2 separate regions of the Homo sapiens genome follow, and region 2 is linked to region 1. A link means that fine-mapping ties the variant in region 1 to the expression of a gene that starts in the linked region. Tissue or cell type: unexposed skin. Region 1 holds a variant in brackets; the other region holds the start of a gene. All regions are shown on one strand. Distances are from middle to middle.

Region 1 (4,229 bases):
ACTGAACAATTCATGGGCTGTGATCAGAAGCACTTACCTGCATAGCAGGTCAGGAATAAGACAAGCAGTCCCAGGACAACTGTCAGGCGAAGTACTGAGACAGCCATTCTGGTAGCACGGGGTATTCGTGCAGATAAATTGTTCAGATACATGTGAAACAATGCTCCATTTATAGGGCATAGATAGGTGACATCATCTGCTTTGGAATTTAGATTGTTGCACAAGATGTCTGCACAGCTTGCTTTTGGATCTGTACTAATGAGACATACCCTATCATTCAAACCAAACATTTTACATATAGGGAAAGAAAAACCCTCTTGATTTTTAAAATTTGTATCTATAAAGGGTTCTGGAGTGAATCTCTTGAGGCTAGTTTCAAGGCCAGCATTGATAATTAAAGGGATATCAGGTAGAATTGCTCGTCAGTGCCAAGCAGCAGGCAACAAATCAGATTGGCAAGGCAAGCCTACACCCTCCCTTTACACTCTATGCCTTCCCTCGTGCTCTGGGACAATCCCTTGTTCCCACATGGGCATGCCCTTTCACACCCCATGCGTCTGCTCTTGCTCTTCCTTCTTCCTCAGATACCCTCCTCCTTGTCTCCCTTCGGATCACTCCTACGTATTCCTCAGTTCAAATGGTCCTTCTTTGTGATACCTTCATGATAACCACTCCACCCTTCTCCAGGCAGTTTGTTACTTCATCATCTGCCCTATAGCACACTTGACCCCATTGTATAAGAACTAAGTGTTGGCTGGGCGCGGTGGCTCACACCTATAATCCAAGCACTTTGGGAGGCTGAGGTGGGCGAATCACGAAGTCAGGAGTTCAAGACCATCCTGGCCAACATGGTGAAACCCCGTCTCTACTAAAAATACAAAAAATTAGCTGGTCGTAGTGGCAGATACCTGTAATCCCAACTACTTGGGAGGCTGAGGCAGGAGAATCGCTTGAACCCTGGGAGGCGGAGATTGCAGTGAGCGGAGATCACACCACTGCACTCCAGCCTGGGTGACAGAGTGAGACTCTGTCTCAAAACAAACAGAAAACGACAACATAAACTGTCTTATTTATTTTACTTTTATTTTTCTCTTTTTTTTCCATCAACTTTTATTTGAAGTTCCAGGCTACACATGTAGCCAGCAGGATGTGCAGGTTTGTTACATAGGGAAACATGTGCCATGATGATGATTTGCTGCACAGATCAACCTGTCACCTAGGTTTCTTTCTTTCTTTTTTTTTTTTTTTTTTTTTGAGACTGAGTCTCGCTCTGTTGCCAGGCTGGAGTGCAGTGGCGCGATCTCAGTTCACTGCAACCTCCGACTCCCTGGTTCAAGTGATTCTCCTGCCTCAGCCTCCCTAGTAGCTGGGACTACAGGCATGTGCCACCATGCCCAGCTAAGTTTTGTATTTTTAGTAGAGACAGGGTTTCACTATGTTGGCCAGGATCATCTCAATCTCCTGACCTCGTGATCTGCCCGCCTCAGCCTTCCCAAGTGTTGGGATTACAGGCGTGAGCTACCGTG[C/T]CTGGCTGGCACCTAGGTATTAAGCCCAGCATCCATTAGCTATTCTTCCTGATGCTCTCTTTCCCCTTGAAACCCTGACAGACCCCAGTGTGTGTTGCTCCCCTGAATGTGCCCATGTGTTCTCATAGGAGAACTAAGTGTTTTAACAGCTCTCTTCTCTTTCAGCTTGTGGATCCACTTATTTGTTTATTGGCAAAATATTGTACATATTCGTGGTGCACAATATGATGTTTTGAAATATGCATATATTGTGCAAAGGCTATATCTGGCTATTTAATACCCAGACTACTCATACTTATCTTTTTTTGTGTGGCGAGAACACTTAAAATCTGCTCTCTTAGCAATTTTCAAGTATACAATACAATGTTATTAACTATAGCCACCATGATGTAAAATAGATGTCTCAAACTCATTCCTCCTATTTAGCTCAAATTTTATATCTTTTGACCAACATCTCCCCAATCCCTCCCACTACCCAACTCCCGGTCTCTGGTAACTATCATTCTACTCTTTGCCTCTGTGAGTTCATCTTGTTTAGAGTCTGCATGTAAATGAGATCATGTGGTATGTATTTGTCTTTCTTTGTCTTTCAGTGCCTGGTTTATTTCATGTAACATCATGTCCTCCAGGTTCAACTGTGTTGCAAATGATAGAATTTCCTTCTTTTTTAAGGCTCTATAGTAAATAGTATTCCAGTGTATACATATCATGGTTTCTTTTTCTATTCACCTGTTGATGGACACTTAGGTTGATTCCTAGCCTGTAGGTCTCAAGAGAAGAATGTTTTATTACTGCTGAATCCTCATGGAGCCTACTCTATTGCCTGGTCTTGGTCTCACCTTTGACTTCACCTCCTCTGAAAGTTTGTTCCGGTTTTTCCAAATAGAGATAGATGATCCTCTGATGTACCTGCTAGGTCCTTTTTAAATGTCTTTACCAATAGGCTGTAGGCTTCTCGAAGGCAAAACTATCTTTTTTAGAGTTGAATACATATTAACTGAGGCACATGGCAAATACCAAAACACATACATACACACACACACACAAAACAAAACAAAACAAAACAAAACAAAAAAACAGCAGCAGAAGAAAAAATAATCTGGGAATTGATTAAGACCAGTCTTTCTCCCCGACTGCCAGACTCCATTGCCTTGGTCTCTATACCCATACCCATCACCATGGTTCCCCTTGAATAAAGTCTACCTTACCATCTTTTTTTTTTTAAAAGAAATAATTAACTGGATTAAATATATTTGCACTTGGTGAAACAGAATGTTGGATTTGAGATGCTGCTATGTATTTCAGATGTAAAATAATCTCCCTTTGCAATACACGCAAGAGAATAAAGTTTGGTTCAAGTCTAGATGATATTGGTTATCCTGAGGAATGCTATAAATTCATTTAATTGGAATGTGGACTTGGGAATACCTAAACTTATTGATTTACCAATACTTATACTTTGCATGTGTCAAAATACCATTTTATAAATGGGAAAGTTAACTAAAGTATGGACAAAAGGAGGTTCATCCAGCATCTCAGAGCCAAGGCTAGGGCAATGTTTCTTACTTACTAGTTATACTCTTCACAAGGCACCAAACCACTTCTGGAACATAATCAGGCAGCTCTGTTGCACCTTGTGTGGTGTGGCCTTCCAAGGCCTTCCCAACGTATCTTCTCAGGAAAACACTGGTCTTGTCTCTCTTGCACAAAGGGTTGAATCTAGACTCTAGACTCTAGATCACCACTGTTTGTATAGGACAGACAAGGCCAGAGTCTCTAATAAAATCTAGACATTAAAAGGCCTTCATTGAGGTAGATTTATGTCATCAGGGTCACTACTGATGACTGAGCACTGTGATTGTCCAAGAGGCTAGTAGGGGAATGACATTCAAGTGTCCTCTATCAGTTAGGCCATGGATCCTGACACATTGCTGTGTTTGCCTGGGAAAGGGTACATATTTTTCTAATCATCACAAGGGCACTCTATAGATAAGAGCAGGCTGTAGATACAGCAACTTAAGACAGAAATTTGCTGGCTTCTTAGGAATAGCAGCTGGACAGGGCAAGCAGACAAATCCTAAATCAGCTGCTTTTGGAGGTCTGGTGTCAAAAAGCTAGCACTGTCCTGAGTGTCAGGATAGCTGGCCTCGATTCCTGTCAGTAACACTAGCTCATTGCATGGTCCTGATTCAATACCCTCCGTTTTCCCTGCTTCTTGTTCTTATTCTTTCTCTCCTCTTGGTTTGTTCCTCATAGCTTCAGGTCTCAGCTAAAATGTCTTGTCTTTGGTGAAAACTTCTATGACTCTCTAATCCAATTCAGATCCCTATGTGATTAAGTTTTCTACACTCTGTATTCTTTCTTCTCAGCACTTAATTTTTGATGATTTAATGTCTCTCTTTCCAAGGAATGTTAACATCTCAAAGGGAAGCATTCTGATCAGTCTTGTTCAGGGAGATGGCTTTGCTGTCTAGGATAGTGCTTTGTTTGTAAAAGATACCCAACAAATATGCATTGAATCAATGAGCTAATAAACAATTCTGAGAAGAGGAACCAGGTTCTTTTGGTTATTATCTGTGTGACTCTGGCAAATGACAGGTACCCTGTGGGTCTCAGTTTCTACATCTGTAAAGGGACATAATATAAATTTCTGCCTATATATCAGCACCATTGTAAGAATATAGGAGATAAAAATGAAACACC
Region 2 (4,247 bases), 77 kb before region 1:
CATCAGAATTCTCTGCTTTCATTGCAGACTGTGACTTCTTTACTAGGCTCTTTCATTCCCCACCCTTTCTGATTTCTCTAATCTTCCAAAAGTATCTGACTGATTTTCCTGTACCCCTTCCTTGGCAAAACCTTAAAAAGTTTGAGTAAAACTTTGATTATGACCAAAGTATCTCGATTTGATGTTTTAGGAAGTTGATCTATTTCCTTGAAAACAGAAATTATGCACTTACTGCTGGAAATGAATCAGGCACTGAGCAAATTATCTTTTGAATACTCACAAACATTCTCAAAACCAGTTACTAGATCTTTAATCTCACAATTAGTGAAGTATAATTTTTATCTCAGTTTACAGATGAAAGTATGGAGAGTTTTTATAACTAGCTGTGAAACAGTTATCATAAGCAGTAACCAGGTCTTCTGATGCAAAGTTAGCTTTTTCAATTACATTTAAATTCCCTTTTGTAAGTATTGTTGAAAAAATAGAGTTCTTTTGCCAACTCACTATCAGTTCCCAAAGAGCTATTTCCAACAATTGCATCATATGGACTATGGGTCTAACTCACATTTGTTGAATTTACAGGTAGTCAAAATAGCTAATCTCTATTCCCCCAGAAAATAGCAGAGGTTTTGCTGACAACATATAGGAAATGATAACTGTGGATAAGTTCATGGAAGGGAAAGGGAACTAATATGATAGCAATCAAATAAGGAAACATTCCTGAAAATTAATTTTAATATCATCAATCTTTGAGGTGATCTGAGCAAAGAGGTAGTTCTTTGTATCTAAATGTAATGAAAATTAGTGAGGCATCTATGAGCTTGGAGAATTTCCCCCGGGATAGTCAGAACTTGATGTTGTTGGGGGCCCACTGGCTTTTAGAATCTAGTTGAGTCTAAAAACTGAAGAGCAGGTGCTCATCACAGGCATCTATTTGTATTAATTAACATGCATGAGGAGGGGGAAAGGGAACACTGACTGTTGCCATAAATATTCAGCAAATAAAACAAACAATATTCTTCCTCTTCTTAGCAAAGTGCTGATTTGGCTCTCCACAGGATCCTTCACTACATGAGAGGTGAAGTTGAAAATGTTAACCATTTCCAGTGATAAAAAGGAAACTGATCTTGGCTCTGCGGGTTCAGAGTTGTCTGTCAACATTGTCAAGATGCAGTTGGAGGTATATGTGCACCATCTATTCAAGCAGAATATTTTCTTTCAAAACATTCAAAATGTGTAATGTAAATACACAAAATGCAATTTTTGTATTTCCAGATACTAATAAGAAATACCAGGAATTGAAAATAAAAAATTCCCTTTATATCACATATATTAGCTATTCAGGGATAAATCTGACAAACTATACATGATTCAAGTACACTGAAACCTATACAATAAAAAAATAAATTTTTAATCAGTCAAATTATGCCTTTTATACTGAATAACTGGAAGCCATTTATCTATTTTATGCAATCCCATGAGAATTTAAAATTTGTAATTTGGCCTTACACATTTACAGAATGAGAAGTATACTTAAAGTTAAAATATTTTTACCCTTTTTTCTCTACCATATCCCAACAAAGGGTCAGCCACATCAATAGAGGAAAACCATTTTATTTCTGGGAATTTCTTACTAGTAGAATTGTTTTCCTTATAGTAGGTTAAAAATTCCTCTTAAAAAATAATTCTTACCTGTTGATTTTATTTCATCTCATTAGGTCCAAAACATCTCTCGAAGACTAGACTACATCAAAAGTCTAGAAGATAATGTGCTTCACAAAGCAACAGGTCAAAACAGTTTTATTTAAATTTGAAAAATATGCAACACTTACCAGATAGACTCAACAGGGCCAAGGCACTGAGAAGAAAGATGCCTGTTACCTTCATGGCTGAAGTTCTGCGTCCAGAGGTCAGTTGAAAACTGCACCGCACTTACCACGTCTCTTCAGAAGCCTGGGACTGGAAGGGTCATATGGCAGATGGCAGCAAGGCCCCACCTACTGGGCTATATCACAGATCTCCCTGGTTATTGATTGACTCTGTGTCATAGCCTGGCCTCCAGGTTCTGGGAATGTCACCTGTGTAAGAAAGGTGAAAGGAGCCAGGTGGGCCTGAAACATGCAAGGCAAAGATTCTGTCAGGAAAATAGTTCTAGTGGTTAGTTTGATCCCTAACTCCCTCTGTGGTTGTGGGAAAGTCATTCCCTTCTCAAGCCTGTTTTCTCACCTGTAAGATGAACTCAAAGATCCCTTCTACTCTGTAGTTCTGGATAGATGAGCAGGTATGGATAGCTACTAGAAAGAATTTTATTCCAAGTAGGGTAAAACCTCTCCATTCTTTTTTCCTTTCCTCCACTCTTCCTTTCTTATTCTTCTTTCTCTTTTCTCTATTTTTCCCTCACTCATTCACAAAACCTAAAGTAGCTGATGGAGTGGCAGATGAGAGGGAAAGAGAAAGCAAGAGAGAGAGAGGACTCAGTTCCCTAAAGCGTGTATTCTGGAGCTAGAGGGTGCTTGTTGGAGCCACTTTTGCTGTGCTTCTGTGTATTCATCTGGAAATTAAAATAATAATAACACCTAATTCAAAGGGTTACTCTTTCATCTGAGAATATGTGCTGGGTAAAAGAGAATATGTGCTGGATATCTACCATGTGTTATTAGAAGAGAATTCTCCATCCTCTCTCATGTTTTGGTGTGTCTTATGAGTAGAGGTACTGATAACCTTTGTTTCAGACTATCTTTTTAAGGGTGTTTATATAACAAACGACCTTAGAAAATACGTAATGTCTCCCTCTGCACCAAAAGGCAGGTTTGTTTACTGTTTAGTGTAATAAAGTTAATATCTCCTTCTAGGGCAAAGACCATGTTAATTGCCCTTTACAAAAGATTTCGGGTTTTTAAAAGCTTGGCCTTTCTTTCCTTTAACACACTGTACTTTCCCTGCAACTATCACTTGATGCCCCTTAAATTGGCCTGTGGAAATTGGGGCTTGGGAAACCAGAACAAATTCCAATACTCTGGCTGTTGCTATGGAATAATTAAGTCCCTTTTCTCTGAGCCAGGAGTCTGTGCCTTCTGCCAGAAACCATTATAATGTGGCAGGCTAACTTCTTAGCTTCCAAGTAGGATAAAATCTCAAACCCTTCCCAAGTCATGACAAGAACTGTATTTATCTCTTAAGACAGATCAGTAAATAAAAATAACAATCTCTGTCTTCATGGAGCTTCCATTGCCTTTTTGTTGAGGGAGGCAAGTGACAAAAAATAATAAGTGATTATAAAATATATCAGATAAATATTATGGAGAAAAGGACAAGAAGGATAAGGGTGCTGGAGGGTTAAGGAGATATGTATCATAGCGTAATCAGAGAAGGTCTTGCTTTTCAGGTGATATCACACAGAGACATGAAGGAAATGAGGATTTGAACTATGCATTTATTCCAAGGATGTGCATTCCAGACAGAGAGAATAGTAAGCGCAAAGGTTCTGAGGCTGACGCTGGTTTGACATGTTTGAGAAACATCCAGGAGGACACTCTGGCTTGAGCAAAGTGATAGAGGGCAAAATGGGAGATGAAATAATGGAAGCAGTGAGGGTCTAAATCTAGTGCAGTCTAGAGTAAGGACTTTGGTTTTTATCAAAGGGAAGCTTTGGAAGTGTTTAGTTCTTGAAATCACTATTTGGATGTTTTACAGCTACCTCAAATCTAATATGTTCCATACTACTATTTTGATCTTTCACCACAATATTTTTGTCTCTATTCTCCCTACAGCTTCTTTTCTTTCCAGTAGATCACTCAAGCCCAAACCTCGTTGTTCTCCCTGATATTTCCCTTTCCCCTTTCTATGCATCATCTTCCACACTTAATTTGCTACCAAGTTCTCTTCTTGGATTCATGTTCAAAATAACCTCAATCCTGGACACTTCTCATTAGCTTCCACTGTCATATCTAAGACAATGCCATCCTTTCCCCCTGGGTTTCTGCATTTCCTGCAAAGAGTTTCTCAATATTTGTTGTTATTTCTTCCTTAAAGCTGCTGCCCATAGAAAGGCCCATAGGGATCTTTATGGACTGCAAATTTGATCATGTATCTGTCCAGTTTCTCATTGTTCAGAATGCTCAGGAAGAATTTAGGTCCTGTATGACTTGGCTCCTTTCTATCTTTATTCCCCAAGAGATTCTTCCTTGCTCAATCTGGTCATTTCCTTGCTACGTTGGTCATTTCTCTGTTACCCTTTACTAGGACCA

Which allele goes with the higher level. Positions count from the first base shown, and alleles are read on the strand shown. Sizes are in standard deviations (SD) of each study's normalised expression.
For the expression in unexposed skin of the gene that starts at base 1,981 in region 2, allele C in region 1 goes with a higher level than allele T (small effect, 0.22 SD a copy in GTEx).

The links. PIP is the estimated chance that this variant, and not a neighbour inherited with it, causes the effect. A credible set is the group of variants that fine-mapping cannot tell apart.
Region 2: it holds the start of SPINK1, and the variant in region 1 is the best candidate, but not a certain one, in a credible set for the expression of SPINK1 in unexposed skin (GTEx, PIP 0.79).

Annotation. Positions count from the first base shown.
Region 1 is chr5:147,906,395-147,910,623 of GRCh38, forward strand. It overlaps C5orf46 (chromosome 5 open reading frame 46), which reads right to left and starts at 144. Exons shown (of 4, transcript NM_206966.3): 1 at 38-144. The coding sequence starts at 107. The variant C/T (reference allele first, on the strand shown) is at 1,527.
Region 2 is chr5:147,829,691-147,833,937 of GRCh38, forward strand. SPINK1 (serine peptidase inhibitor Kazal type 1) reads right to left here and starts at 1,981. Exons shown (of 4, transcript NM_001379610.1): 1 at 1,833-1,981. The coding sequence starts at 1,887. LOC124901101 (a long non-coding RNA gene) reads left to right here and starts at 815. Exons shown (of 2, transcript XR_007058987.1): 1 at 815-1,180; 2 at 1,719-1,921.